Homo sapiens: one gene and its partners. The protein of the gene in region 1 purifies or fractionates together with the protein of each later gene. This does not show direct contact. Each region holds a gene or a part of one and is shown in the gene's direction. Other genes may lie near its edges.

Region 1 (6,530 bases):
AATAAAAGTGAAAGTCCTTTAAAAGGATTGTAAGGCCCTGTGTCATAGACCTGCATACCTCTCTGACGTACTCTTTCCTTCACGCAACTCCAGTCACACTAGGTCTCCTTGCTTTTCTGTTTCAGGGCCTTTGCAGGTACTCTTCACTCTGCCTGGGATTCTTGCCTCACATATCTGCTTTCATGTGAATCCTCCATTTCCCTCTGGTCTCTATAATATCACTCAATGAAGCTTTCCCTAGCCACCTATTTAAAATTACAGTAACTCCATCAATACTTCTATTCCCCCCTCCTATCTTACTTTTTTATTCCCAGCACTTAACATTTGACGTTGTTATATTTATTGTATGCCTCGGTGAATTGTCCTTTGTTCACTGCTGTGTCTCCAGCACTTAGAACAGTGCCTGGCATTCTTAATTGTCACTTAGTGAATATGAATGAGTTTCACATTTGGCAGAGCTAAGTTTAAGTGTGGTCTTTAGCTTTATAAGTGCTGTTGCATCCCTGGCACTTAGCACAGTGCTCAACAGTAGATACTATTCATTGTGCTAATTATTTAAAAAAAGAAACAAAATCGCAGTGCAATTTGTTATTTTGTGGTAAATGCATTGGTAAAATTGGTGAAACATAACAGCCTTTTAAAACTTAGTAGCAAGTAATGAGAAGTGGCTAGATTTAGGATATATTTTAAAGCCTACAGGATTTGCTAGCATAGGTTGGAGATTTGCCTATCTGTTGCTGAAAGGAGTGAATGGATGGAATTGTAGTATTTTGCAAGGTAAATTACTGCCAATTTATCTTTTTGTAAATTTTCATATTTTGAGTTTACTTAATGTGTATCTGCTTATATTAAATTTCAATATACTTTTTATAAATGTTGACAGTTTGAGGTAACAAAATATTCTGATTTGCTGAATTGTGAGTTTCATTTGTATAATTTTAGATGATAAGAGCACTTTTGAAGAAACGTGTCCATACTGTTTCCAGCTGTTGGTTCTGGATAACTCTCGAGTGCGTCTCAAACCCAAAGCCAGGTTGACACCCAAAATACAGAAACTTCTTAATCGAGAAGCGAGAAACTATACACTCAGTTTTAAAGAAGCAAAAATGGTGAAAAAGTTCAAAGACTCCAAAAGTGTATTGGTAAGATTTCAGTTCCAGTATGTATGAGTAAACTAGAATTTTCTTTTCTTTCACTTAAAATCAGTTTAAGAATCAGCCTCAGTATAACTCAGAGATTTATAGTAGTATATTTGGATTATCAAAATATATACATAAACACTTCTCTAATGATTAGTGTTTCATTATAAGGACAGCTTACTTTTATTTTTCATGATTACCTAAACCAAACATGGTGAGCTCTCAATTGTTTTGAGATCCCATTGTTGAGCATTATTTTTCACAAATGTGCGGATTTCTTGAACTGACCGTTATGGCTCCACCTAAATTGCAGTTACCACTACATTATTTTTTCAGTTAATGCTCCTTTGCTTCAGATAGTACTATGTTATGTATGTAGGTATCATGTCACTTCTTCAGCTGTCCTCCCACTCCATGTCAGAGTGGATTTACAGGTATGCCCAACAAAGGTGAATGCATCTTTTGTTCTTTCAACATTTTATTGAGGGTCTATCATATGCCAAGCAACATTTAATATTGGGGATATAAGATGGAATAAAACAACCAAAATCAGATTACGTACGGTTTACTATATGGAGGCCAGTAGCAAATACACTTTATATCCCTGCATATTTTATGTTAACATTTATCAACTGTTCAAGTGCCTGCTTATTGTCTATCACTGTGCCGGGCACTGGACATTATGACAGCTTATGTCTGGCCTAAGACTATAATTAGCAATTACTTGGATTGAAAATTGTCATATTTAGGAGTTTACCAGTGTTGGTCAGGTAGGTGCATTTTGCTTTGTCATAAAATTGAATGGTTAAAGGGAAAGAAAGAAGAGATAGAATATTGAAGTGAGTATGGAATTCGGTTTCTTAGTTCTTGGAGAATTGTATTTTTCAAAAATCATTACTGCCACATATTTGGAAAATGTTCTTAAATGGGAAGACAGCAAATGCTGCCTCACTATCTTGCAGTGTTTTGCCCTCATGAAGCTTACATTCTAATGTATTTTAATCAGAAGTCAGCTAGAAAGGTGCTAGAGGTATTTGTTTTTCTGATTTTTTTTTTTTTTTTTTTTTTTTTTTTTGAGACGGAGTCTCCCTCTGTCGCCCAGGCTGGAGTGTAGTGGCGTGATCTCGGTTCACTGCAAGCCCCACCTCCTGGGTTCACGCCATTCTCCTGCCTCAGCCTCCTGAGTAGCTGGGACTACAGGTGCCCACCACCACGCCCGGCTGATTTATTTTAACCTGTATACAGCCTCCTTCCAAAAAGTGTAAAGCAACATAGACCTTTGATAGATGCAGATCTTCCATTGGCATTTTCATCTGCTCATGAACATCAAACTACTTCTCACTTAAACTAGTTTGTATTAATTTGCCGAGGCATGGGCTGAGTCCTGTGCACAGTCAATTAGATATGTAGAAGAAAGGAAATTAGCTAGAAAATGGACCATTTCTTGAGAAATGAATCTTGAAAAGAAAGACAACCTCTAGAGCTAATGATGGGAGTGGAGAGGTGTGAGAGTATAACAACTCATTTGGTTGTATAAGTTACTTTAGACCTATGTTTACAAAATTGCTAAGGATTTGAAGGGGCTACTTAAATTTCCAGTGATACTGTGCCATGTTGTTTTTGGGAAGAGGCTTGAAGTTCATCTGCAAAAAAATATTAAATGCTTACTGCTGTTACAAAGAACATTCCTCCAGATGTTAAAGAGTATTATCTCCCATCTCTTCCCAAATTCCCACCAAACATGGTTTTATATTTAAAAAGTAGAGTTCATTATCTTTGAAAACCTATTTTAAATTAAATACAAATGTTTAGCCATTCATTTTTATTGAACATTTTCTCATTTAAAATTTGTCGGCTGGGCACAGTGACTCAAGCCTGTAATCCCAGCATTTTGGGAGGCCGAGGCGGGTGGATCGCCTGAGGTCAGGAGTTCAAGACCAGGCTGGCCAACATGGCGAAACCCTGCCTACTAAAAATACAGAATTAGCCAGGCACAGTGGAAGGCGCCTGGTCTCAGCTACATGGGAGGCTGAGGCAGGAGGATCACTTGAACCCAGGAGGCAGAGGTTGCAGTGAGCTGAGATCACGCCACTGCACTCCAGCCTGGGGACAGAGCAAGACTCCGTCTCAAAAAAAAAAAAATGTCTTGTCTGATTCTCGCTACTAGATTGCAAGTTCCCCAAGGACAGCCTCTATTTTACTTACCCCTATAGTATCTGGTGTAGTCCCTGACATTTAAGAATTCAATGAACCTGTGGTTTATGGGGTTAAATTATAAGATAAATGACGGGACTGATATTTCTTATTTTTATGGTAGTTGATCACTTGTAAAACATGCAACAGAACAGTGAAACATCATGGTAAAAGTAGAAGCTTTGTGTCAACATTGAAGAGCAATCCTGCCACTCCTACAAGTAAACTCAGCCTGAAGACACCAGAGAGAAGGACTGCAAACCCAAATCATGACATGTCTGGCTCGAAAGGCAAGAGCCCAGCATCGGTTTTCAGGTATCTTAATCCATGAAGTTTTTGAATTGCCAGTGTTAAGTGTTTTCTTCTAATTTCCTGTGTTTAATATATACTCCCTAAATATGCCATGCATTTCAGGACTTGGCCATTTTTCCTCCATACCCTTTTCTAATGTCACATACTCCCATATCTTCAATGCTCATTTCAATGCATTTGACTTCTAGGTATGTTACTCTACTTCCAACATCTCCTGTGCCTATTTCCAGCTGCCTGCTAAATATAACCACTTCAGTCCCCTACATGTTCAAAACTTAGTTCATCATTGCCCCACAGCTAACCACTCAAACCTGTCCATCCTCCTGAGTTCCTTATTCTGTGAATGAACACACCTTTCTGGACATTTTGACCTAAAATGACAGGTACATTCAAAAATCCCTATTCCCTTGGTCCTTGTCACCGATTTCTATATATCCTACTTCCCTGTTTTCATCTTTTTGCTCCTTTTTCTCCATAGTGCTGCTATATTCTGGTTCAGGTCCTTATGCACCATTTGTCAGGACTACTGCAGTGATTTTCCTCATGGGTCTCCCTGCTTCTAGGATCAAACTCTTTTAGTGTGATCATCTTTCTGGAGCATAGCTCTGATTAGAAGCATCACTGTGTAGCATATGGATAAATGCTCTAGCATGGCTTTCCAGCCCTATCTGGCACCAGTCTGTCTGCCTGTCTTTCTTTGCCTTAAATCATCCTATGTGCCAACAAAACTGAACCATTCACGGCCGGGCATGGTGGCTCACACCTGTAATCCCAGCACTTTGGGAGGCTGAGGTGGGCGGCTCAGGAGTTCAAGACCAGCCTGTGCAACACGGTGAAATCCCATCTCTACTAAAATACAAAAGATTAGCCAGGCGTAGCGGCGTGCGCCTGTAGTCCCAGCTATTTGGGAGGCTGAGGCGGGAGAACTGCTTGAACCTGGGAGGCAGAGGTTGCAGTGAGCTGAGATGGCGCCACTGCACTCCAGCCTGGGCGACAGAGCGAGACTCCGTCTCCAAAAAAAAAAATACTGAACCATTCATAATACACTTTCTTGCCCTAAACATTTGTTCTTGCCCTTTTCTCTGTCAGAAATTCCTGAGGAAATCTAACTGAACAGGGATTTGTCAAATGATAATACACCGAGGATAGCCAGTGCATGTATATGGCCATAATACAAAAGAGTAGAAAATGATTGTCATTTGTTGGTATAACTAAGTGTGGTTTTGTTTCTTTTCAGAACACCTACATCTGGACAGTCAGTATCTACTTGCTCCTCAAAGAACACCAGCAAAACAAAGAAACACTTCTCTCAACTAAAAATGTTACTTAGTCAGAATGAATCCCAAAAGATTCCAAAGGTGGACTTCAGAAATTTCTTATCTTCTCTGAAGGGTGGACTTTTAAAATAAGAAATGCCTGATGTCAATTCTGAAACTAAAGTTGGTAAAACAACTTTTTAAACTCTTATTCATTTTTTGAATACATGGAAACTAGATCTGAATGCAAACTTTTCTTGGCATCCTTCAGTGTTTATGGGGAAAATACCTCATTAGTGTGAATACCTGAAACCTGCCTACCTCATAGGACAGCTGTGAGGATCAAAAAATATATGAAAGTTCCTTGTAGATACATATCTATAGATATATATGTGTATGTATATAAAGATAGATATATACATTGAGTAGTGGCATTACTGTTTTTTCTTCCTTTAGTCAGCAGTTTTTATTTATGTTATTGTCTTTCAAAAGGAAATTGAGATCTTTATGAGAGGGTCTATTCACTCAAGGGTTTCTTCCATGTGTCTATAGCATTGTTGATAATTCAGGAATAGGATCAAGTGGGTCCTTATTTTCTCACAATTATCTGCATAACTATCTTAGTAAAACCTGAACCTTATTCCTATTTTGATTGCAAAAGTAAATATCTGGAACATTCCTGATTATAGATCACTCAATAGGAAACTAAAATTTTCTTTCTTAGAAAAGGAAACATACTGTTGGTGATACTATAAATTAGTACAGCAACTTTGGAAAACAGTATGGAGGTTCCTCAAAAAACTAAAGGTAGAATTACCATATGATCCCATATCTGCATATATATCCAAAGGAATTGAAATCAGTATGTCAAAGAGATGTCTGCCCTACAGTGTTTCATTGTAGGATTATTCACAATAACCAAGATATGAAAACAACAGAAATGCTTGTCAAAGGATGGATTTTTGTAAATGTGTATATACACAATGGAATACTATTCAGCCTTTAAAAAGCAAGAAATTCTGTCAGTTATGATAACATGGATGAACCTAGCGGACATTATGCTAAGTGAAATAAGCCAGACACAGAGAGACAAATACTGTATTATTTACATGGGATCTAAAAAAGTAGAGCTCATAGAAGTAGAGGATATAATAGTGATTACTGGAGGCTGTGGTTGGGGGAGGGGAAATTTCAATTAAGAGGAATAAGTTCTATGATCTCTTGTACAGCATGATGACTCTAGTTAATGTATATTTCAAAATAGCTGAAAGAGGATTTTTGGCCTTTTTTTTTTTTTTTTTTTTTTTTTTAAGAGACAGAGTCTTGCTCTGTCATCTGGGCTGGAGTGCTATAGCATGATTATAGATCACTGTAGCCTTGAACTCCTGGGCTCAAGTGATCCTGTTGCCTCAGCCTCCAGAATAGCTGGAACTACAGACACACACCACTGCACCTGGCTAATATTTTATTTTAATTTTTTTCATTTCCCACTATAAGAAGCCATAATTTTTTTTATTTTTTGTAGAGGCAGGATCTTACTTTGTTGCCCAGGCTTGTCTTGAATTCCTGGCTTCAAGCAATCCTCCTAACTCAACCTCCCAAAGTGCTACGATTACAGGTGTGAGCCACA
Region 2 (9,430 bases), on another chromosome or scaffold:
GGCCAATATGGTGAAACCCCATCCCTACTAAAAATACAAAAATTATCCAGGCATGGTGGCACGCTCGCAGCTACTCGGGAGGCTGAGGCACGAGAATTGCTTGAACCCAGGAGGCAGAGGTTACAGTGAGCTGAGACTGTGCCACTGCACTCCAGCCTGGGCAACAGAGTAAGACTGTGTCTCAAAAAAATTTTTTTTAAATGCAATTATAGATATTCTCAAGAATTTTGTTTTAGTTAAAGGGGTAAGTAGAAGCAAGTGATTTTTAGTCATAAAAGACACCTGTAGAACTTTTTAAAATCAGGCACATTCAGCCCTCACCACTGGAGACTTTGTTCCAGTAGATTTGGGGTTGATTCTGGGTATCTGTTTTTTCATGTTCTGTAAGAAAGTATAATTCAGTGCCAAAACCACTAGTGTTTAATATAAGGAAGACCATGGGCATTTCCAAGTTTGTTACAAAACCAACAGCAACTTAGTTTGCTTATTAAATAATAGCAACTCAGTTGTGATTTAGAATAAAAGTTGCAGATGTACCAAGTATTTTGTTGTACATTTGATTTCTGGATTAATTTTGAAGATCATGCAACTTACATTTCCATATCCCTTTACTGATGATTAGAGAAACAAAAGAAGGTATACATTTGTAAAACCTTTCAAAAACGTTTACATATTTATTTCCTTTAACTTTTACGACAATCCCGTAGGATAATTGGGACAGATATTTATTACTATCCTCATTCTATAATGGAGAAAACTGAGATTCAGGCTGAGTGATTTGCTCTAAATCTCCCAGCAAGTTTGTTCTAAAGATAGGACTTTGGGTTTTAGACTATGTTGTAATTTCATATAATAGTTTTACTTGTTTATCTTACTGTTTTTCTCAGACTTAAAGTTTGAATTTGGTGAACACATGCTTGATGATAGTAGATGGGCCTGTCAAAAATACTTTGGAAGATGGAAGAAAGCACAAAGTATTGACTTTACACATATACTCAAAAAGTTAAATGAGAACGCAGTTTTAAAAATGGGAACATCTTCCTCTTCTCTATCCAAATATTACCCATTCCTTAAGATTAAATTGAAATTAGAGTTCTCCTTGTTTTCTATAGGAAATCAATTTTAAAAGACATCTTTCTTTTAAAGCTTTTATAGGTATATCATGGTTTGGAATCAGGTCAAATGCAAGCAGTTTGTGTCTTAAGTTACATTCTACAAGTGATTTTATTTATTTTGTTTGTAAGTTGATTATCTAGAATTCTAACAGGTATCTATCTCTGTAGGTATGGTATTCTAAAACTAAGTTAGGTCTCCAAGATGAGTCATCAAGCATACACACACAGACAGACACATGTTTATGTCAATAGTAGTATAAAATCGAACCATCTTAAATAGCATCATTTCCATGGGACATAATATACCATTATATTTTCTACTCAGAGTATCCGGAAGATGTCTCATAGAAACTCCCTCTCCATAGCTACTTAAGGAGATAAGGCAGAGATTAAAGATTTTGAGGGGGTCCATTGGTTAGGGCTCCTTGGGATGGGGGACAGCTGTGGAATATGACACAGAGAGAGAGTTGCATAGAAGCTTCTGGAGCTTCTGGACCAATTAATTATTCCCATTTAGGATTTAAAGCAGCTGAGCAGGTTGAGGAGAATTCAGGTTATTTAGTCCAGTGGTCTCTAACCTGCTTTGATTGTGCACCCTATCAGTTTAAAAAATTTTTGAGCCTGCTTCCAAATATATATATGTTTCTTATAAATTATTCGCATCTCTCATTATACCAGTGTGCCTTATAAAAACTACATACACACAAAACAGATCTTAAGATAGTGAATTAAAAATTAAATGGGCCAGGCATGGTGGCTCACGCCTGTAATCCTAGCACTTTGGGAGGCCGAGGCAGGCAGATCACGAGAGGCCATCCTGGCTAACACGGTGAAACCCCGACTCCACTAAAAATTCAAAAAATTAGCCAGGCATGGTGGCGGGCACCTGTAGTCCCAGCTACTCAGGAGGCTGAGGCAGGAGAATGGTGTGAACCCGGGAGACGGAGCTTGCAGTGAGCCAAGATTGCACCACAGCACTGCAACCTGGATGACAGAGCAAGACTCCGTCTCAAAGAAAAAAGTAAATGGAGGCTGGATCCAGTGCCTTGTGCCTGTAATTCCAGGACTTTGGGAGGCCGAGGCAGGATGACCACTTGAGGCCAGGAGTTCAAGACCAGCCTGGGCAACATAGTGAGACCCTGTCTCTATTTTTAAAAAATAAAAGTAAATGGAAATAAAAGTTTTATTTTCTTCCTGCTCCTGAAATTCATGCCTTTCCTTTGCAGAGGACTGTTGTAGTGTCTTGAGGAAGGGAGTGTCCTGGTGTTACTTGCAGTATGGTCTGGCTCCACTGGCTTTAGAATTACCTGGGATATTTATTAAAATGCAGATCATTAGGCCATACTTAATGAATCAATGGAGGTAGGGCCTGGTTGTCTCCATTTTTGATACATTCTTTAGGGGAGTTTTGTACACATTAAAGTTGAGTGCCACTGTTGATGGGCATCTCTCTTTTTCCTTGGTAAGCCTGATTGTCTCTTCACAATTTATCAAACTGATACCTTTGAAAGGGATTCAGGGAGGAATATGAACCCCTACAGTCCTATTCCTTTTGTGCCATAGAGGCAAAGATGTGTATATATGTGTGCATTTTTATGGGAATACGTTTTCTTTAAATTGTCATAGGAGTCTCTGGCCAAAAAAAAAAAAAAAAATTGGTATGGACAACTGATGTGAATTATTATGTAACCTACTAGTTTTCAGAGAAAACCATTATAAGATTCTTAACCCCAAGGCTCTATTGGGCATAATTTAATCTTCTAAAATGATATAGAAAGCGTTTCATTGTAGTGTGAACATTAACTTTTATTTTGTGGTTATCTAAAAGTATTGATTGAACATTTTGGTTAATAGAAAACTAAATAACAAAATAATTCAGTTTGGGGCATTCTAAGGTTGAAGTGTCAGAGGGAGCCATGTGGAGCTGTCCCTTGTAACTAAAAGTTTATTATAATGCATGTATTTGCACGTACTTAAACCAACATAGAGCCATTGTTTAATTGGCCACTCTTATGTAGGAAAAGGGAAGAAAGGAACAATGTGTAAGTAAAAAGTAACCTAATTTAGCTTTATTCTGGGGAGAATGTTTAACAGGCTTTTAAAGAATTAATCACCTTTTTAAACTGAAGAAATAATTTACATTCACAATGATTAATTTAAACAGTACAAAGGTACTGAAAAGTATGCCTTACTTCCACCTAAAATTCCTTCCCCATTTTTTCCAGAAGCAACCACTAGTAATAGTTTTTGTGTATCTTTTTAGAAATATTATTTACCTCGTCTTTTTTTCCTTTGTTCTCCCCTTTCTCCCTTCCTCTTTCCTTCCTACCTAACACCATGCTTCTTTTACCTTACAGTTTCTTAGAGGTTGTTCCATAATATCCATTAGAGATGTACATCATTTCCTTTAATGAGTTGGCATATTCCATCATATAAAGGGATCATAATTGAAGTAAAATTGAGGGATGTTTAATTGTGTCTAGTCTTTCATGATTGGTATTGCAATGACTGTCATTGTACTAATGTCCCCTGAGCCTTTGTAGGGTATATAGCTACGTAATATATTTTTAGAGTCTCTGCACTTATAGAGACTTCTCTATAGGAGACTCCACTTATACCTACTACATACCTATAAGTAGAATTGTTGGTGTGTGCATTTAAAATTTTGGTAGCCATTGCTAAAATGCTTTTCAAGACCTTATACTGATTTAAAGACCTTTTGAGTGCCTGTTCATTCATTCTCATGTCAGCAAGGTAGTACCAAACTTTTTTATCTTTGCCAGTATGATCGATAAAAAATGGTGAACAGAGCTGAATTTGTTTCAGCTATCATTCAGAGCTTTTCTTCATCCACTCTTATTAAATTTTCAGTGACTCTTTTATGAGTTGGACAGCTGTGGCAGTTGGGATGGGGCAGATTCTTTATGAGCCAAGTATTTCTGCCAAAACAACATTGCTTCCCAGGCTTACTAAGTTACTATGACTGTCTTAAAGCTAGCCAGCCTCTGATCTCTACTTCCTAAAGCCCTGGGGTTGGAGTAGGAGTGACTGAAGTGGGGATTCTGAAGAAAAAGGGCAAGATACGGTATTCCTGTCATTGCCGAAGGTTGGCACCAATCCTATAGGTCATTTTCTCCACTCTTCCTTACTCTGCCCTTTCCCCTGGTACATGCCACTGATGTTGTTTGTCAGCGTAGCCATCCTGGAAGTTTGAATTTGTCTGTCAAGCCTGTACACACTAGCATTGTCAGTAAGCTTTGTTTTTAATGTAATACATAACAGCCAAATATTTTTATCACTATAAATCAAATAATGGCAAAATCAGAGCCAGGTATGTTTCTTCCAGCAGTGTCTTCTGGCTTGCCCTCTACACTAGTAACCTTTTCCCAGCTTTATTTTTCTTCCCTGATTTTCCATTTATCCTGATTTTCTTATCTGTTTATTTTATCTTGTATGTGGTTTTCATAAACAGTTTCAAATCTCTTTGAGAAGAAAATGCAGAGTATTACTCAACAAGTCATAGCAAAAATTAAAACAACAGAAAGGGAAATTAAAAGTTGAGAAAATGCATTCATTATCATTTGCTTTGTAGTAGCTCTGCTTTAACTATTTATGTAGATTCCTTCTATTAGTATTTGAACAAATGTCATGAGGTGCTGTGTTCATATTTCTTTAGCTACTCAGTAGACTTGATAGGAGCCACAGCCCTGGGACAATTCTTGGCACAGAGTTGCTCAATAAATAGTGTGTGGGATAAATGGACTATGCATACATTCCATTTGGCTTATTTTTTCCTTGGGTTTTAGAATAGTCAGTTTCTTCTTTCTGGGACAGTCTGAAGTAACCTTCCAGAAACTGAGCCTCGCTCTGCAACCCATCCTTATGTAGAAGACCATATGAGTTAGAGAGTCTCCAGGCCCTATCTTTTGAGAAAGTCTGTGGACATATTCCGCTTTTGCTGGATTACAGTTAAACCATTTAAACCAAACCTAAAAGAGTAGCAAAACAGTTGACTTTGTAAAAGGTCAGATGTATTTCAACACAGAACCATCAAAACACCTATGGAGTGAACCATACTTTATATCGAGTTTGACCCTATCTCCCATTCTTACTTGTGCCAATTTTCCTTTTGGCCTTACCTATTTTTTTCTTCTTTACAGATTGCTTGCACACATTTAGATGTGGATTTAGTCTGCATAACTGTAACAGAGAAACTACCATTTTACTTCAAAAGACCTCCTATTAATGTGGTAAGTGTACTTTCCATTCTGTATTTGAATCTTAGAAACTTACATTAGCAAATTGGAAAAGAAGCAGAAGAAATCAGTGTTCTTAGAAGGAAAAACAAAGGCTAGGGAATAGGAGGCAGTTTTAGAAAAGAGAATTTTCGTTTTGAAAGCTGAACAAAGGGAGAAAGAAAGCTTAAAATTAAAAATATCCAGTTAATTATTAAGATGTTTTTAAAAGGCCATAGAACCCAAAATTTATAAAGGATATTTCTTAAGAGGATAGCTAATAATCATGGGTACTTATAACCTGAACATCAATTATTAAGGGAACAGAGCAGTCAAAAAAGAAGAGGAAGGGAAAAAATAAAAAGCAGAGGATCCTTGAGGCACCAGGAAGCTAAAGAGAGTCAAGAGGGAACAGGGCATGGCATCACATAGACGTGGTCTATGCAAAATTAAAATCTGTGTTGAAGCATGCTTATTCACAAAGAGCCCAGAGTTACTTTTATATGAACCTAATAGGATGGCCATGTGTTCAGAAAACTTTTTTGTTTCTCCCTCTGCTATAGAATTTTTCTCATTCCCCTTCTACATAGTTTTCTCTTGTTTTCCCATACCCTTCATCTTCTATCTGTCCATTCCTTCTTCTGTCTTAATTTCCTCCCATTTCCATCATAAGGTAATATTATTTCACACCAGTAACTATTTTAGTAGCAAAAGGTCAGCACAGCTGTTAACTATTTGCTTTGCCAGTCAGATCCTAGGAGGAGTTCAGATGCTATTTTAGAGTAGTGGCTTCCAAAACCCTAGTCTCCTGTTCTCAAAAACTGGTATCCAAGGAGAAAAAAAAGAGTTTAGCAAATACAGTCAAAATTACATATCCAATCCTGTCAGAATCAGAAGATTAATTTTTTTTAAGTTTTTCAAAGGATAATTCCCTTGCTCTTTTGCCTCTGTAGAATCATAACTTTCTCAATTTTAATTCTCTTTGGTGCTAAGGAATTGGCTTGAGAATTAGAGGGAGACAGTAAGAGGAGAAAATGGAAAATTAGTATGTGAAAATTCAGTGTGGCAAAAATTATTAGTAGTAGTAGTAGTAGTAGTAGAGACAGGGTGTCACTCTATTGCCCAAGCTAGAGTGCAGTGGCATGATCATAGCTCACTGCAGCCTCAACTTCCTGGGATCAAGTGATCCTCCTACCTCAGCCTCCTGAGCAATTGGGACTACAGGTGCATGCCACCACACCTGGCTAATTTTTTTATGTTTTGTAAAGTTGAGGTCTCACCATGTTTCCCAGGCTGGTCTCAAACTCCTGGGCTCAAGCAATCCTCCCACCTCAGCCTCCCAAAGTGCTCAGCTTACAGGCATGAGCCACCATGCCTGACCCACCCAATGGGGAAAAGTTTAAGTTAGCTTATGTTCTACCCCTAAAAATATGCTACTCAAACTAAAAATATATCATCATATATTTCAAGGGAAAAACATAAAAGCTCTTGTTGGGTAAATTTTTTTTTTTTTTTTGAGACGGAGTCTTGCTGTCACCCAGGCTGGAGTACAGTGGCACGATCTCGGCTCACTTCCACCTCCACCTCCCTGGTTCAAGCAATTCTCCTGCCCCAGCCTCCTGAGTAGCTGGGATTACAGGTGCACACCACCATGTCCGGCTAATTTTTGTATTTCTTTTTAGTAGAGATGGGGTTTTACCATGTTGGCCAGGCTGGTCTCAAATTCCTGACCTTGTGATCCGCCCGCCTCAGCCTCGCCAAATGCTGGGATTACAGGCGTGAGCCACCACACCCGGCCTAGGGTAAATATTGACAGTACTAGTGAACATAACAATATTGGCTGAGCTCAAATCATTGGTTCCTTGTGTTATTGCCAGTACTTATAAATAAATAAGTAAACAGTGAAAAACCACTGAATCACCACATTTTCGAGTTGGAAATCTATGTTGTGCAACAGTTCATTTGTCAAATGTGGGGAAATGAAAAACTACAAGAAGTCATTCAGTTCTGTAGTCACACAGGGTTAGGAAAGTTCTGATTGGTTGTCTGTCAAGATCTCTGATGTGCCCCAGGTACCTATGATAAAAGCCACAAATTAATACAGTACTCAAGGTTATGGCAGTCTTGTTGGCCTCACATATTGTTTCTCTCCAGAGGTAGCAATCTCTGTCTTTAGAAGTTTGCCTAACCTTTTTACCAGCCTCAAACTGCCAATACAGTTTCTGTGGAAGTAGCACCCCCAGAGTTGGGCACTATAGCTACTCAGCAAATTGCTAGTGAACTTGCAACTTTTTCACCTTTTTCTTCATCTTAATGAACTAGGAAGGTCATTTTCTAGATGGCTTTGCCTGAATAAGCCCACATACGATACTGTGACCTTTGATGGGAGGAGCTAGCATGTGATGTTAAGGCCAAGTCCATGGAATGGACAGCAATGCACAACAGATAATTCCTCATGTCTCACGACAGTGGTAAGATTCCCAGTGGCTGCTTTGGTGAGAGCTTTTAATTGGGGTTCTTAGGAACTTGTATTATTATTTAAACCAGAGTGTGAGCTCCTAGAGAACACCGGCTGTCATGGTCCTTTTTTAAGTACTCCACTATCTTGCGTATAATGAGTCCTCCTTACAGTTTGTTGAGTCAATAAGTACATGTTGAACTTAGCATATCAGGGTACAGCATAGGGGACCTGGCCAAATTCTGCTCGTTGTTAGTCACCAGCTGGATGTCCACATTCATCAGGAAGTATATGCCGTGAGGGAAGTGGGGCAGTGGGGCAACATGAGGAGGACAGTGGCACTCAAGACAGTTGACACCAGGACACCCCACCCCCTGATTCCATTGGGAAGTTCAGGAAAGCTCCTTTCGTTTGATGGGCATTTTTCGCTTAATTCCTACATTTTTCAATTTAAGAATTCTGAAAAGTAAAAAATTCTGTCAAGTGAGAGGGATATGCAGTTTAACATGGTGTCTGCTTTAAAAAAAATCTGGTGTGAACATTTTGCATATGTTGTTTAATAAAAACTAGATGATGGAGTGGAAAGAAAGGCTGCACAAGATTATTTTTAGTCTTCATCTAGTAGAAGAGTAGGCTGCACTGTGAATTGGTCAGGAAGCAGAAGAGTCCCTGTTAATTTATTCACCTATTTTTTATTAAAGAGAGAAAGTTGGAAACATACAGGTGTCTAGCTTGTTGTTCAGAGTAAATAATAGTTGTGGCATAGGTATGTATGTATTATTTGTAACATAATATCCAGTCTGGCTGTGGAGCTGTTTGTCTACATAAAGTATGGAAATGTATACATTGTGAGAGCACAGTCTTGGTCCTTGCATGTTCCCTTGGCTTTGAGTGTAAACTTGTTTTTGGCCTTGAGAAGTTCATAGATTGGCTTTAAAAGGATCACTTTATAAGGATTACTTTTTTTTTTTTTTTTTTTTTTGAGACAGAGTCTCGCTCTGTCCACCCACGCTGGAGTGCAGTGGTGTGATCTCGGCTCACTGCAGCCTCCGCCTCCTCAGTTCAAGCAATTCTCCTGTCTCAGCCTCCCAAGTAGCTGGGATTACAGACATCCGCCACCACAGCTGGCTAATTTTTTTTTTATTTTTAATAGAGTTGGGGTTTCATCATGTTGGCCAGGCTGGTTTTGAACTCCTGACCTCAAGTGATCCACCCGCCTCGGCCAGGATACTTTAAATTAAGCACAGATCTTAATTTTGTCACGATGTGGGCCCTTTTCTTTGGTTGTGGTGAAAAGCAGTATTAAGAAAGGTAAATCATTCATCTTTTACCAATAGGCCAGATGCCATGTGAGAATCATCAGCTTGGAAGGTTGGGATTGTGAAGGAGGGCCCAGGAGCTCTATAGCATACCAAACACTCCATTTGTGTACTTTGCAGCTCTTTTCCCTTTTGTCATCTTCACTGTATGCTTAGGGCACCATAATTTCAATTATGCAATTTCCTCTAAAATCTCCCACAAACCTCTTCTGGAGTCTAAGTAACTTGTCATCGCATTTCTGTCATGTGATAGATGTGTTTCTAAAAAATTGGATTCCACTCCTTTTCTTGAATAATCACATG
Region 3 (6,833 bases), on another chromosome or scaffold:
TCACATTAGAGTTTAGGCGGGGCATGGTAGCTCATGCCCTCAATCCCAGTACTTTTGGGGAGGCCGAGGCTACGGGATTGCCTGAGCCTAGGAGTTGAAGACCAGCCCAGGCAACAAAGCAAGACCTTGTCTCTATAGAATTTCTTTTTTTTTTTTTTTTAAGACGGAGTCTTACTCCATTGCCCAGGCTGGAGCACAGTGGTGCAATTACGGCTCATTGCAGCCTCCGCCTTCTGGGTTCAAGCAATTCCCCTACCTCAGCCACCCACCTAAGTAGCTGGGATTACAGGTGTGCACCAGCACTCCTGGCTAATTTTTGTATTTTTAGTAGAGACTGGGTTTCACCATATTTGCCAGGCTGGTCTCGAACTCCTGACCTCAAGTGATCTGTCCAGCTTGTCCTCCCAAAGTGCTGGGATTACAGGTGTGAGCCACCGTGCCCAGCCTATACAGAAAATTTAAAAATTAAAAAAATTTTCTGGGCTTGGTGGTATGCGCCTATAATCCCAGCTATTCAGCATGAGGCTGAGGTGGGAGGATTGCTTGAACCCAGAAGTTCAAGGCTGCAGTGAGCCATGATCGAACGACTGCACTACTGCCAGGTGACAGGGCAAGACTGTCTAGTAAAAAGAGTTTGCCCTTGATCTACAGGCAGCAGAGGCCTCTTGAGACAGCTCTAAAGGGCCCTCAGCAAAGCCTATTTTTCTCTCTTTCTCTAAAGCTATAAAATCTTATCAGTCAGTACTTTGTTTCTGGATTATATTGCGTGAGATTATGCTTATCCAGACTACTTGGCTCTCTTTATCGCCCCAGCAGATTCTGCAGGTGGGACAAGTTTATAGCCTGTTTTGTGATCCCTCTGGAGCATGATTTTAAGTATTTATTCTGTGGTGTTTGGATGTGGAGACATCATCTGACTTGCAGTTGGCAAGAGCTCTGCCCCATCCTATTTGTTTCACCCCCTGTCACTTATTTCCCTCTTCCTGACCACTTTGAACCTGATGCCAGCCCCTCACAGTCACTGCATTGCATCTGGATGAGCCACTTTTCTTCCTGATTTCCTGAGCTCTAGGGGAGCATAGAGATAATGGGGTCAGGGGACACAGTGTGGCCACCGTGAAGGAAGCAGCTTAGGCCCCAGAAGTCTCCAGGATTGCTGTACCGAGATGACCAGGGTGTGATCTCTCACCCTAAGGAGCTGAATTTGGCTTTTCTGTGGGAAAGTGTCTGGGAAGAATATCAGAGACCAATAGCGCTCAGGGGGCCCTTTCTCGGGGCTGTCCAGTGTGGAAACACCCTGTCCTACACCAGTGGTTCCTGATTCCGGCTCTGAATCAGATTCACGAGGGCAACTTTTTTTTTTTTTTTGATATGGAGTCTTGCTGTCGCCCAGGCTAGAATGCAGTGGCGCGATCTTGACTCACTACAACCTCCGTCTCCTGGATTCAAGAGATTCTCCTGCCTCAGCCTCCAAGTAGCTGGGATTACAGGCAGGCACCACCATGCCTGGCTAATTTTTTTGTATTTTTTAGTAGAGACGGGATTTCGCCATATTGGCCAGGCTGGTCTCGAACTCCTGACCTTATGATCCGCCCGCCTTGGGCTCCCAATGTGCTTTGGTTACTGGCGTGAGCCACTGCACCCGGCCTGGGGCAGCTTTTTATAAGCACAGATGCCCAGGCCTTATTATTGAAGATTCCAATTCAGTAGATCTGGGTTGAGGACCAAGCATCTGCATGTTTTAAGAAGCCACAGGTTATTTTTGAGGTGTAGCAAGGATTGAAAGAACAGAAAACTTGGATTTGGAAAACTAGTTGTGACTTTAGGCAGTGAGTCAGTTTCCTAATGCACACATTGGGGGATTCTATAGGAATGCTGTAAGAAGCAAATAATACATGGAGAGAGTGCTTTATACAGCGATACACTGCACAGACACACTTGCCTTCAACATCAGCTGCCAGCCTAGTAAGTGGTAGTATAAATGCAAAGGATATAACTTCCTTTAGTTTTGCCAGGTGGGTCCCTGTGATTCTAGCTGAGCCCCAGGAAGGAAGGGAAGAAAACTGAGGGAAGAGAAGGGAGTGTGTAGTTGCCTCTGGGAAGGATAAAAGGATATGCCCTCTGGACCAATAGTTTATAACATTTTCCCCATTAAGCATCCTTCTACTCATTTTTCCTCAATGGATTAGTATCTTTAAATTTCATTACATTTCCCTAGTCTTCATGGAATTGCCAGCCAGAGAAGTCAGCTCGGGGTCCCCCTAAAAAGGAGGACTGGCCGGGAGTGGTGGCTCGTTCCTGTAATCCCAGCACTCTGGGAAGCTGAGGTGGGTGAATCACCTGAGGTCAGGAGTTCGAGACCCGCCTGGCCAACATGGTGAACCCCATCTCTACTAAAAATACAAAAATTAGCCAGGCGTGGTGTTGGGCACCTATAATCCCAGCTACTCCGGAGGCTGTGGCAGGAGAATCGCTTGAATCTGGGAGGCAGAGGTTGCAATAAGCTGAGATCATGCCATTGCACTCCAGCCTAGGCAACAAGAGCAAAACTCCGTCTCAAAAAACAAAAAAAAGGGAGTGTATGCCTGCATATGTATCAAATGCTGTAGGAAGGATATTCAAGAAATTTAGGGCCCTGGGAGGTGGGGAGACTTACAAAAGTGGACGTGACAGTGTTATTTGAAGTTTTAATCATGAGATGACTGTTCAGTTCTTTAAAATATCACACCTGATTGGTTGTGAATGGCAGAGGCCACCAGAGTATTTGCAGATTGGGAGCTCTACGTGGGTGGACATCGGGTCTTGCTTACTGTGAGCCCCAGGACCTAGAACACCACTTGCATACTGGAGGTGCTCAGATCATTTTTTTTTTTTTTTTTTTGCAGACAGGGTCAGATGTGTTACTGGGCTGGAGTGTGGTGGCACAATCACGCTCACTGCATCCTTGACCTCCTGGGCTCAAGTGATCTTCCCACCTCAGCCTCCCAAGTAGCTGGGACTACAGGTACGCCTCACACTTAGCTAATTTATGTATTTTTTGTAGAGGGTTTCTCCATTTGCTCAGAGTGGTCTCGAACTCATGGGCTGAAGTGATCTGTCCACCACAGCCTCCCGAAATTCTGAGACTGAAGGCATGAGCCAGTGTGCCAGGCCTAGAATATTTGTTGAGTGAATGCATGGAAGCCCAACTAGATAGCATTTTGGAAAACAGTAACAAGTTAGAAGATTAATACCATACAGTCACTAGAAGGTTAATTATGAACAAGTAGAAACAGAATATTTTTAATAAATGAAATAGACAAATGGAATTGTACTATGATTGCAATAATTAAAACTTTCACATATTGCTTGTATAGGAATAAAGACAAAGTCATATAAAAAAATGGGGAAAATTAAACACTACTCACCCATAGTCCTGAGTATTTTAAAGAGCCTTCGTAGAGCATTCAAAATCGGGTAAGAAAAATGGGGAAAAATAAAATTACTTAATCTTTAAAAGGAAGACAAGCGTATGCTCACCTAATTGGACTTATATAATCAGGCTTGCTCTAGCTTATCCAGAATCAGAGTACAGGCCGGGCGCAGTGGCTCATGCCTGTAATCCCAGCACTTTGGGAGGCCGAGGTGGGTGGATCACCTGAGGTCAGGAGTTTGAGACCAGCCTGGGCAACATGGTGAAACCCTGTCTCTACTAAAAAAAAATAGAAACATTAGCTGGGCTTGGTGGCGGGCGCCTGTAATCCCAGCTACTCGGGAGGCTGAGGCAGGAGAATCGCTTGAACCCAGGAGGTGGAGGTTGCAGTGAGCTGAGATTGTGCCACTGCACTCCAGCCTGGGCAACAAGAGTGAAATTCTGTCTCAAAAAATAAATACATAAATAAATAAGAATCAGAGAGTACAGTCAAGATATTCTTAAGTCATGCAGTTGTCGCTAACATGAATTTTTTCTGTTGTCATTTTGCTTCTTGGAAGGATTTTCAAAATGGCTGCAGCTCCTCAAGCACCGGGGCGGGGATCTCTCCGTAAGACGAGACCTCTGGTTGTGAAGACGTCGTTGAACAACCCATACATCATCCGCTGGAGCGCTCTGGAGAGCGAGGATATGCACTTCATCCTACAGACGCTTGAGGACAGGCTTAAAGCTATTGGACTTCAGAAGATTGAAGATAAGAAGAAAAAGAACAAAACACCTTTTCTGAAAAAAGAAAGCAGAGAGAAATGCAGCATTGCTGTTGATATTAGTGAGAATCTGAAGGAGAAGAAAACAGATGCTAAGCAGCAAGTGTCAGGGTGGACGCCTGCACACGTCAGGAAGCAGCTTGCCATTGGCGTTAACGAAGTTACCAGAGCCCTGGAAAGGAGGGAACTGCTGTTAGTTCTGGTGTGTAAATCAGTCAAGCCTGCCATGATCACCTCACACTTGATTCAGTTAAGCCTAAGCAGAAGTGTCCCTGCCTGTCAGGTCCCCCGGCTCAGTGAGAGAATCGCCCCCGTCATTGGCTTAAAATGTGTTCTAGCCTTGGCGTTCAAAAAGAACACCACTGACTTTGTGGACGAAGTAAGAGCCATCATCCCCAGAGTCCCCAGTTTAAGTGTACCATGGCTTCAAGACAGAATTGAAGATTCTGGGGAAAATTTAGAGACTGAACCTCTGGAAAGCCAAGACAGAGAGCTTTTGGACACTTCATTTGAAGATCTGTCAAAACCTAAGAGAAAGCTTGCTGACGGTCGGCAGGCTTCTGTAACATTACAACCCCTTAAAATAAAGAAACTGATTCCAAACCCTAATAAGATAAGGAAACCACCCAAAAGTAAAAAAGCTACTCCAAAGTAATCTTGCATAAACTTGTCATGTCATACAGTTTGTGAAAGGACACCTTGTAAAGAAGCCTTGAAACTAATAAAATGAGTTATACTTACATAGATTCATAGGGTCCTGTTTGGTAATATTCAAATGTGTAAGACTCTTTGTAACTATGGCACAGATATACTAAGTGCAGGAAATATTCAAAATTAGGAATAGCCAAACAGACATTTATTGAAACTAGTGTTCATGCGTGTGTAAATTGACTTTTTCTTTTTCTTTTTTTTTTTTTTGAGACAGTTTCACTCTTGTTGTCCAGGCTGGAGTGCAATGGTGCGGTCTCAGCTCACTGCAACCTCCTCCTCACGGGTTCAAGCAATTCTCCTGCCTCAGCTTCCCAAGTATCTGGGACTACAGGTGCGCACCACCATGCCTAGCTAAGTTTTGTATTTTTAGTAGACACGGGGTTTTACCATGTTGGCCAGGATGGTTTCCGTCTCTTGACCTCGTGATTTGCCCACGTCAGCCTCCCAAAGTGCTAGGATTACAGCTGCGAGCCACCGTGCCTGGCCTTTTTTTTTTTTTTTTTGAGACAGAGTTTCGTTCTGTCGCCAAGGCAGGAGTGCAGCGGCGCAATCTCGGCTCACTGCACCCTCCACCACCCAGATTCAACGATTCTCCTGTCTCAGCCGCCTGAGTAGCTGGGATTGCAGGTGCCCACCACCACACCCAGCTCATTTTTTTGTATTTTTAGTAGAGATGGGGTTTCACCATGTTGGTCAGGCTGGTCTCGAACTGACCTCGTGATCCACCTGCCTTGTCCTCCCAAAGTGCTGAGATGACAGACGTGAGCAGCCGCGTCCAGCCTAAATTGACTTTTTCAAAGGCTGGTAGAGTGCCTGTGAGCAAGAATATCTGTGTCATACAACGCTTAGCATTTTCCTATCAAACCTGGAAAATGTACCACAGTAAATGTTCTAGTCAGTCAGGTAGATGGAACTGAATTGGGGAAGCATTATCAGTTTTAAAGGAAAGATCCCAAATGCCAAGCAATCCATTGTCTTCAGAAGCAACACATCATTTTTCACTTCATGTCAATTTGACTTTTAGGAAGGAATAGACATGAGCTTGGGAGAAAGACTTAATATTTAGAGAAAAAATATCAAAAATATAGAAAAAGTCAGATAAGGTTATTTTGACTGGGTACAGTTCACCCCCATTACGTGATTCACTTACCTCCTTGGAAATCTAACGTATAAAAGGTATGATGGTAATTGGATGAAATGTGGCCAAAAGATTAAAAAAACTGAGGAGCTTGGGTTCTCAGAGGTGGGTGTGTGACAAGAGTCCTTCAGGTTAGGAGATGGAGCATAACCGATGCTCTGTTAGAGTGTCTGCTGTTTACAGTGTGTATGGAAAAGTTACTTTCTGTAATTTAGAAGGAAGGTATTTACTAAAGATTTTTCCAGCTGAAAGTCTGGCTGACTCATGGATTATGCCATCTCTCGATTTAAATTTTACTTAGTGCCATCTTGGCCAAAAAGAAGAAAAAAAGATACCTTATTGAATAGAACATTTTCATTATAGACAAAGTACAGTACAATGCAGTTTTAAATCTACAAGAAACTATCCATTGCATTTCAATTTAGTTTTAATAGCTACTTCATAAGCAAGCAGTTTAATTCTCGAAAATGTTAATTAGTAATCTGCTTCAATTATGGAGGCAAATGTAGTTATTATTCTATTTAAAAGTGGTTAATAATTTGATAACAAATTATGTAAATGACTCTTTAAAGGAGCAGTGTAACTGTCACCGTGAGGTAAGCTCATGACAAAGTTTCCAACTGGCAATGCTGCAGTTATTTATTTTACTTTCGAGATAGAGTCTCACTCTGTTGCCCAGGCTGGAGTGCAGTGGTGTGATCCCGGCTCACTGCAACCCCGCCTCCTGGGTTCAAGCGATTCTCCTGCCTCAGCCTCCTGAATAGCTGGGATTACAGGTGCACACCCCCATGTCCGGCTAGTTTTT
Region 4 (9,430 bases), on another chromosome or scaffold:
GCATTACTGTTTTACTCAGTAACTTGACTTTTTTTTTTTTTTAACCCTGTCTTTGCAAAATGTCTACTTCTGGTATTTTTCATGGGTTAGTTTACTTCTTTTATTTAAGAATTCTTAAACATATTTTCTTGAACTTAAGGACTCCAGCTTCCATTGATGTTCTGTCCAATTTATGAATTCAGAGTGAGGAGTAATACTTTCTGTGCCAGGCATTGTTCTAAGTGCTTTTATATGCATGAAGTCATGTAATTATATCACAAAAGCTCTGTGAGGTGGGCATGCTTATTACTGTTTTCATATTTCAGATGAGGAAACTGAGGCATAGAAAGGCCAAGAAACTGCCAGGCCACATAGTGAATAAATGGTAGAGCTGCGATTTGAATGCAGGCAGTATGGTTTCATAGTCTTTCTTCTTTACTATTCACCAGTCCCCAGAACAGTTTTTCAACTGTATCTCAAGAACTATGGTGCTTTGTGAACCTTGAAACTTCTGCAGCCTGTGCACCTGTTTGTAGGTGAGCTGGCTTTGAAGTTGGTGGGTCAGCATCCCTCTTACTCAAAACTAACTGCTACTATATTTTTAGCAAATAGCACTAACTTGCTTAGCTTTAAAGCAAACTACTTCTATTGATCACCAAACATAAACTATTGACCTGGGTCATTACTTTTATATTTTCTACTTTTTTTTAAAGTTCCTTTTGAGTGTAAGAAATTTGGAAGAAGGTAAGCTTTGAATGAAAGAGCAGATCATCTCGTAGGCAGCATATTTTCATAAAGAAATAGTAAACGTTAGTAAAATCCAAATGTGACTTGATATAGAAAGAAGGGGTTGAAGAAGTAAAGGTGCCTTGTCAGAAGATGGTTGAAGTAGAATTGGAAGTGTTGCTCAATTGAGCATTTTTAATAGATATTCAGCAGGCATTAACTGATTAATGGGCTTATTCTGCTGGGCACTCTGCAGGGCCCCATATCTTCCCTGTTTTCAGAAACATTTCTAAATTGAGGAGGTTTGCCCAGGATACGGAAATAAGTGAAAAACAAGTCGTGATAATCTGGTGGTGTAGCGAAGAGGGGCCTTTCAGTGATCCCCCAACCCTCTGCAATTAGGCTTTGACCAGTATTTAATCATGTGGGGTTTTTTTATTGTGTATGTGAGATATGTGTGTTAGGATATTTATGTTAACTTTCCTATGTCAATCTAATTCAGCTGCAGATGGGACCTGTCCTGGTACAGAGGGGGAACAAAACAACTTGTATTTGGAGCAGTGGAGAAAAATTCAGTTTTTAAAGACATAAGGAAAGCTTAGTGAGCAAAAAAATTTCCTTACAGACTGATTTTTTTTTTTTAATTTTTAGGTTTTGTGGGTACGTAGCAGGTATATATATTTATGGGGTACGTATTTTGTTATAAGCATATAGTGCATAATAACCACAGGGTAAATGGGGTATCCATCACTTCAAGCATTTAGGGACTGATAATTCTAATTTTTAAATTTTGATTGTGAGCTAGCTTTCCTTGTTGTCATATAATTACAAGTCAGTAACATGTCCAATATATTTTTCTCATCTTTCCACGTTTCAGGAGACCAGTTTTGATTTTAAATGTTCTCAATCCAGACTAAAGACAACCAAGTATTCTTCTCAGAAAGTGATAGGAACTCCTCATGCCAAAAGTTTTGTGCAAAGATTCCGAGAGGCTGAGTCCTTCACACAACTTTCTGAAGAAATCCAGATGGCAGTTGTATGGTGCAGGAGCAAAAAACTCAAGGCTCAGGCCATTTTTCTGGGTAACAAACTTCTTAAAAGCAACCGGCTTAAACATCTGGAAGCTCAAGGTACTAGGTAGGTATATTGCAAAAATTATGTTACTTTACTTTTTCTGTTGTTGTTATGAGTAAAAGTATTCAGGTCACTTTTCTTTAAAATGTGATGTCCAGCAGCCGCAGCGGGGCTAAATTGGGATGTACTCAAACTGCAATTGCATTTGCTGCTTTTATTGTAAGAGCAAAGCTGTATCATTGGAGGAAGAAGATAAACAAGTTAATTGGACTTCAGTCCCCGTTATGCTCTTCATCATTTCCATCAGCTCATTCAGGAACCATTAAGAGTGTCTAGTGTGCTGAGCCTGAGGATACAACTGCATAAAGACGTGACTTGGTCTTCAGGGAGCTCAGGGTCTTCTGGGAAAGGCAGCCCTTCTGCAGACAGCTTCAGTGCAGTGCAGTGGGATAAGGGCATGAGAGCAGAAGCAGAAGGTGCCTGCCTTCCATGAGGCCCACACAAGACTGCTGGGGTGTTGTACTGTTGCTACTTGCTACTGTTTGTAGCAGCTGGACTCTATCTATATTTCTTTTCTGTGATTTTTATATTCACAACTGTTTAAGGGTGCTTATCTTTGCTTGTGAACCAGTATTGCATGAAGTATTACATGAATTTAGACATTAGACACTTCAGGGCTTAACGGTAATGATTTCAGACACAAATATGTATTAAGAGCCTATTCCACCTTCACAGAGGCAATTATTCTGACCTGTTTTTTATTGTATTCTTTAACAAATATCCTGTGCATGCCCCATAATTTCTTATCCATAGTTTAGAGCTATTCAGGGATTTAAAGTTCATTCCTGGGGATGAACCACGTATTGAAAATTTGTTAAATTTTCTTTTAAAATTTGCATAAAATATATTCCTGTTTTAGAAAAAAAAAAGTATACAGTGAGGGTTTTGTAACACATTTTGATTAAAAGCTATGGGGAAAGTGGTTGAATATTCCTGAGGGATAAAGTGCTTGAGGGGTTTTTACATTGAGATGGCTCCTCTAAAGGTCTGTAATAATCTAAAAGTGATGTATCCTATGGCTGGAGACGCAGCCTGAGATGGAGAGAAGCATTCTGTTTAAAATTGGGTTTAAAATCAAGGGTAGATGAGGCAGAGGTAACAACTAAAAGTTAATGAGAAGGGTAGCAAACTGGTGTTTATTGGTTAAACCATTACTCAGTACTCCCCCAGATATAGTGCTCCTTCATAGATTGCCCTGTTTTGCTGTTTCATTAATATATTTGTAGTAAACTTTATAATTTATTTAATGTCCATAATAACATTGTGAGGTAGACAGTATTATTCCCATTTCATAGATGGGTAAATGGAGGATTTTGCTCAAGGGGTTAGATGTGGAACTCAGTTCAGGCCCTCTGTTTTCCTTTCAACTCTGAAGTACACCCACCTTCTCCCCACTTAAAAGCCACTGCTTATAGTGAGATAAGAAAATGGTATGGAAGCAAAGATCATGATTTACTTTATTATAATGGGCTTCCTCAAAGTTTTATATCCATGCCCGTCTTTTAAAATCTATCACAAACAGTGAAACAATTCAGCAAGGCACTGATGAACCTTGTGGCAGTGTACCGTGTGTGGAAGCAAAACACCTAAAATGATCAGCTGTTTGATTTCTGAATTTCCAAACTTGAAGATGACATATGAATCATAATTAGGGTAGCTTAAGGCTGTCTGTGTATCTGGGCCAGAAGCCCTGTCTTCATATTGTTTTATAAACCCCTCTTAGCCTTTATTCCTTTTTCCTTGTTCATTTCCTGCCACAGCATGAAGCTGATTATCCAGATTCGGATTAATACGTACTGGCAGATTTTTTCATTTGTGATGTTTCCTCATGTCCACTCATTACATTATGAACAGATTAGCAGTTATGAGGGAAAAGCTCTGACACTAAAGTATAGGGTATCTCGCCATTCAGCTAATTGCTAGGCGGCTGTACTTTTGAGAGTTTGAAAGCAAAATGGGGACACATTCGTCTACACTTCAATCAGAGGGCATTTGTGCTCTCAAAAAACAGACTTGGGGTGAAATTTTTCGATGTGGTTCTGGGATTGTACACAGGCATAGGACTTGTAGATAAGTTGTGTATTTTTCTTTTCAGTTGGTAAATTAAAAGTGCTTGAGAATGTTTTTCTCATCTTAAGCCCAGATTTTTCCTCTCTCTGTCTTTTAAAGTTTGCCAAAGAAACTAGAGTGCATAAAAACGTCTATTTGCAACCACCTTCTTCGTGGCTCAGGTATCAAAACTTCAAAGCATCATCTGAGACAGAGAAGATCACAGAATAAATTTTTACGGAGACAAAGGAAACCACAGAGAAAGTTGCAGTCGACTCTTTTAAGGGAAATTCAGCAGTTCTCTCAAGGGACTCGGAAGAGTGCTACAGATACCAGTGCTAAGTGGAGACTCTCACACTGTACTGTGCATAGAACTGATCTCTACCCTAACAGTAAGCAGCTCTTGAATAGTGGAGTTTCAATGCCTGTCATACAAACTAAGGAGAAAATGATTCATGAAAATCTTAGAGGCATCCATGAAAATGAAACTGATTCGTGGACGGTGATGCAAATAAATAAAAACAGTACATCAGGAACCATTAAGGAGACAGATGACATTGATGATATTTTTGCTTTAATGGGAGTTTAGATGTTCGTTCATATGTGAGACTTTTAAGTGATTAACAAGGCTAGTTCAGTGTTCTAAGTAGAACTGCTAAGATCTGGAAGTACCACCTGGACTCACAGAGGAGCTGCTTTAGTGCAGCATTGCACAGGAGTTCATTTCAGTTCAGTCTACATTTAAAGTAGCATTGTGTCATTTCATCAACAAGTATTTCTTTTTTGGCTTCAACTACATGTCAGGTGTTAATATGAAAAATCTGCCACAGCCTACCCTTGAGAAGCAGATGTAATTCCTTGAGTGAGGCTAGTAAGTCTCTGAAAAACTGAATAATTTTATGACTTACTAGGCAATTTAATAATCGTTTGCAAAAACCATTGTGTCTTGAGGTAAATGAGGAGCGGGGGTGGGAGATAGCAAGGAAACACCTGAAAGGTCAATTTGGTCTTATTGGCTCCATTATACATAGGTCCGCCTCTGAATACTAAAGTTTGTAGCTCCTGACATTTATGTTTTCTTGTTTATATGTTGGAATTGATCAACAAGGTTTGCCACTGCTTGTATTACCAGGGACTGGTTACAACCATTATTTCTCTTCATTTGCTTGGCTTATCTCATATTAAAGTGAGTTTGGAGTTCTCCAAAACGTTTTAATTTTATTTATTTGGGTACCAGTGATTGATTCCAAATAAACCTTTTTACAAAAAGGCAATAAGGTGGTTTATGGTTACATATGAAATATAATAGGATAACAGGTAGATGAGAAAGTAAAATGAAAAAATGAGGTTAGGAGATACAAAGTAGACCCAGGAATGAGGCTAGAACATTTATAATTTGGTGTTGATGCTGTCATCTGATAGGGGATGTTGCTCGTACTGTTGCTCTGAGGGGAGTACATCTTGAGTATTTTCAAATAATGATGTGAAGTTTGAGGTAGGTATCTTTCCAATGTTCTAACTTTACTAGAATTAGGTTATTAAGCTTCTCTAGTGCCCTTAACTTTTGTTACATAGAGATTTAAAGAAAAAGAAAGTAGTACCTTAGTATGTACCGCATCCTTCTTTTCCTCAGCCACCCTATCATAACAGAAGTTATTTCCCTTCCATTCTTTATTTGGCTTTGTTCTTTCCCTGTCTGCCTTCTCCATTTTCTCAGTTATCTCTACCAGTGGTTCTCAAACTTTAGACTTTTTGAGAATCACCTGGTGGGTTGCTAAAAGATGCAGATTAGCCCTTTCCCAGAGACTGATAAACAGGGGCCAGAAACCTGCATTTTTAACATGGAGCCCAAGTGATTTTGATCCAGGTGGCCCCCAAATCCAGTTATATAAACACTACTTTAGCTTCTCTCCTGAAGCCTTAAGTAAACTGGTTTAATTCTTAATCTGTAGTCAGTTTTCATATTCCTTTTGGCTTTCTACCAAGTGGTAGTATCCATTTAGTGCCTTAAAATACAGACAATACCAAGGAGATTTCATTCTAGACAAGTCTAGAAATGGCCATTAACTTCTAAGTGTCCTTGTGTTCAATGAATATCCTTTACCTATTGGGAAATAGAAGGTAAATTAGTAAGAGAACTGGTGTATAGCTTTGTGGACCATAGGGCTTATTTGCTGAGAGTTGTCTATATTCATGCACCCAGTCCCCTAAGTAGCCTCTTTTAATACTTCATTTAGCTGATTCAGAAAAAAACTCCCTGGGAATTAGGAGATTTAAGGTTCAGTCTTGCTTCTCCTACTTGTGGCTTCACTGAGCTAGTCAGTTTCCTCAGGCTTAGGTTTCTGGATTTGAAGTGGAATTTTTTCAAGAATGAAACTTTTATAGCTGAAATAAACTTTGGAGCTTATCTTTCATTGGAAAAACCAGGGTGGTTCAGTGAGTTAAGGACAATATAGCATGGACTGGGCTGCCAGTCTAGCATTTGTTTCCAAATTCATTCATGTTCTTTTGGAGTATCTTCATCTCCTCTCATTTTCCCATCTTCTGCCCTTTACTATTCTGGGAAAATGGCAAAAAAGCTTCACATGTGTCCACAAAATGACAATTTGTATGTTTATAAGGAATTCAGTATTCTGTATCAGTTACTTTTTCCAAATAAATCCAAATATTTAACATTTAAAAAAATGCAATCTAAAGTATACCAAACTGTAACTTACCTAGTAAATGAGATTAGAAACTATTGTCAGGGTCATCGTAGTGAATTATTATTATTATTATTTTTTGAGACAGAGTCTTGTGCTGTTGCCCAGGCTGGAGCACAGTGGTATGATCTCAGTTCACTGCACCCTCCACCTCCTGGGCTCAAGCTATTCTCCCACCTCAGCCGCCTGAGTAGCTGACACTATAGGCACCACCATGCCCTGGCTAATTTTTTAAAAACTTTGTGTAGAGATAGGGTTTCACCATGTTGCTTAGGCTGGTCTCAAACTCCTGGACTCAAGGGATCCACCCACTTTGGTCTCCCAAAGTGCTGGGATTACCCACATCCTAGTACCAACTTTATCACTTCTGATGGCATTAGGACACACAGGCCATTTATAAGAGCAGTGTTTGAGACCTCCTGTGTGTCACTTCCAATCCTCTTGGCCTTCATACTAAAGTCACTGCTGTGGCAACCAGTTTCAAGCAGGGCTGAACCTTGCCTCTTGCTCTGGGGATGTCTCACTTCCTGCCCCTGGGCTTCTCACCAGCTACAGGAACTGCCTAGCACTTGGGTATGTACAACCTGGAAGAGGTGTGGGGCCACCCCATCCCCTCCTCAAAGAAATTCACAGGCACAGTATGAGGCTAAAGTAACTTCCATCTTGGATGCTAATCTACCATGTTGACTTCTGATAACCAGTTCCTGGAATGCCCTCTAAGATTTCTACTTTTATCTATTAAAAGAACACACACACACACACACACTGTAAATCCTGGCCTTAAGCAAGTTATAGGCTAAGTTGTAAACAGCATTCTTGCCTTTCCCTGAGGAGGTGACTTCAGTGTCTCACATGTTCCTTCATGTACCCCCTTTTCTCTATGGCATATAAGCCCTGGGTCGGGGGGTAACTGTGGGGATCACTGCCTGAGACATGGCTTCTGTGCATAAGTCCCTATTAAATGTTTCTTTCTGACAAACTGGATTTGTTGGCCTCTTTCTTTGGCATCTCAGCACTCTCAGCCTTTGGGGGTAGGTTGCATAGACCTGGTCACTATACAACACATATTTCCTAGGACTTGTCACAAGTTCCCTCAAGATCTAGCACTAGTGCCTATGTTTTGGCTAACTCAATGAATATGTTGTTAATAGGCTTGTCTGTCTTGTTTCATTTTGCCACTGTTCCCTGGGATCACTTCCCAAATTTACATATGTAAGCTTTTGGCTCAGGCTCTGCTTATAGGAGAACCAAGGATAAATCAAAGCAGTGAAGTAACACTGGCAGACAAAAAGATGACTTCTAAGATAATTCTTTTGTTACTATATATTTTATGAATGTCTATATTAAAAAATCTTTTTTTTGGCTGAAAACATTCCTGCTTAGATTAGACCAATTCTGTCAACTATAAAACTGACAATATATTCAGATTGTTTTCTAAAGAAAAGCCACGAAGTTGGTTTATAGCTTTAATTTGTTATCCAGCAATACAGCTATAACCTTTTAATATTAAGCTTCACTTTGAAAACCTAAGCCACTTACATGAATAGGTTAGTGGCACCTTCACAAAAATCTTCTCTATTAACTTTAGTTCAAAGGCTTTATTTTTCCATTCTGAATCTTAAATGTAGCAGTCTAAACTGTCCCATCAGCTTTTTTCTCTTGCCCTTTACAAATTAGTTTTCTCACTTAAAGCTATTTTTGTTTTTTGCTTTTTCACTAGTGAAAATGTTACTTCCCCCATGAAAGGACATTTCTTGTAATAAATCTACCTGTGAATTTTGCTATATTTCTTTGTTGGTTTGGCTTTACAAATATGTAGCTGTCTTCTCACATGTTACCTGCTGTAAAACCATTCATTTGAATCTTAATAGCTTTCACGTTTACAGTAACAAATGAATTTCCGAGAAATCAAGTAAGTTGCCCAAGATCCAACATATATAATAAACATCAGAACTAGAACTTGAATTCTGTTCTTTCGGTTGTTTCCAACATGGACTAACACATTTTATCAAGAATGTTTTCAATATTCAAATAAGGACTCAAAAAAATAGGCTTACATAGTAACTTTTATCCATCAACTTACCTATCGATGCTTAACAGAAAAGCAGCCCCCTTTTACCTAGCCCATTTTAACATTTAAAAAAAAAATACCCATAGTAGACATATTCTTTAAAAGACAAAAGCCCAATAAAACGTCAAACCCTTCTGTACATAGTTGTAACAGGTTTTCATTTTATGGATGTGCTCTTGTCAGTTTGTTAAAATAGGGGAATCAGCTAGTAGCTGTTCTAATGAACACCATAATTCAATAACTTACAAACTTTTTTCACCTCAGGCACAAATTCTTGTTTCGAGAAGGCACAGGTTTTAAAGCTCAAGTGATCCTCCTGAAGTTACAGATGCACAACATTTAAAACAATGTTGAAATTCTTCTAGGTATTTAACTCCAGTTAGCATAAAGCTTTTTTTTTTTTTTTTGAATCTTCAGCTAAACCGGGAACCATTAGTCAAGACTTCCTGTTACACTGGCTATAAAGCATCTCAACAGGTGGATTCCAGAAAAGGTCACAGCACTGTGAAAAGAAAAGAGAAATAATTTTCTTCCTTTCCTCAGATATAACATCTGAATTCATCAACTTAAAAAAATTTACAAATTCTTATGATTTCATATATGAAAGCAGAACATCTTTTAATGTGTTCTAGCTTTCTTCTCTTCCCCCAGCCGCGTCTTGTAGTATTCTAAAATCTGATGATCAATATTATCTGATCCATTTCCTTCATGATTCCAAAAATTTCACTATATCTTCTATTTTGCTTTGTTTTCCAGAATAAGTCTTGAT

The links.
Region 2: the proteins of RMP24 (region 1) and RPP30 purify together in Homo sapiens (affinity purification with mass spectrometry; 2 studies listed by BioGRID and IntAct, with this or other methods). This does not show direct contact.
Region 3: the proteins of RMP24 (region 1) and RPP38 purify together in Homo sapiens (co-immunoprecipitation; 3 studies listed by BioGRID and IntAct, with this or other methods). This does not show direct contact.
Region 4: the proteins of RMP24 (region 1) and RMP64 purify together in Homo sapiens (affinity purification with mass spectrometry; 2 studies listed by BioGRID and IntAct, with this or other methods). This does not show direct contact.

What each region holds. Positions count from the first base shown.
Region 1 is NC_000018.10:35,973,954-35,980,483, forward strand, and holds the end of RMP24 (UPF0711 protein C18orf21), read left to right. Parts: intron 1-942; coding exon 943-1,142; intron 1,143-3,456; coding exon 3,457-3,647; intron 3,648-4,881; coding exon 4,882-5,053; 3' UTR 5,054-5,325; downstream 5,326-6,530.
Region 2 is NC_000010.11:90,880,537-90,889,966, forward strand, and holds part of RPP30 (ribonuclease P protein subunit p30), read left to right. Parts: intron 1-5,275; coding exon 5,276-5,365; intron 5,366-9,430. UniProt on the Homo sapiens protein: Component of ribonuclease P, a ribonucleoprotein complex that generates mature tRNA molecules by cleaving their 5'-ends. Also a component of the MRP ribonuclease complex, which cleaves pre-rRNA sequences.
Region 3 is NC_000010.11:15,099,333-15,106,165, forward strand, and holds the end of RPP38 (ribonuclease P protein subunit p38), read left to right. Parts: intron 1-2,885; 5' UTR 2,886-3,004; intron 3,005-3,972; 5' UTR 3,973-3,982; coding exon 3,983-4,834; 3' UTR 4,835-4,925; downstream 4,926-6,833. UniProt on the Homo sapiens protein: Component of ribonuclease P, a ribonucleoprotein complex that generates mature tRNA molecules by cleaving their 5'-ends. Also a component of the MRP ribonuclease complex, which cleaves pre-rRNA sequences.
Region 4 is NC_000003.12:113,000,583-113,010,012, reverse strand, and holds the end of RMP64 (nucleolus and neural progenitor protein), read left to right. Parts: intron 1-1,582; coding exon 1,583-1,842; intron 1,843-3,982; coding exon of another isoform or gene 3,983-4,008; coding exon 4,009-4,477; 3' UTR 4,478-7,569; downstream 7,570-9,430. Other genes in the region: GTPBP8 (GTP-binding protein 8), read right to left, coding at 9,094-9,163. UniProt on the Homo sapiens protein: May play a role in cortex development as part of the Notch signaling pathway. Downstream of Notch may repress the expression of proneural genes and inhibit neuronal differentiation thereby maintaining neural progenitors.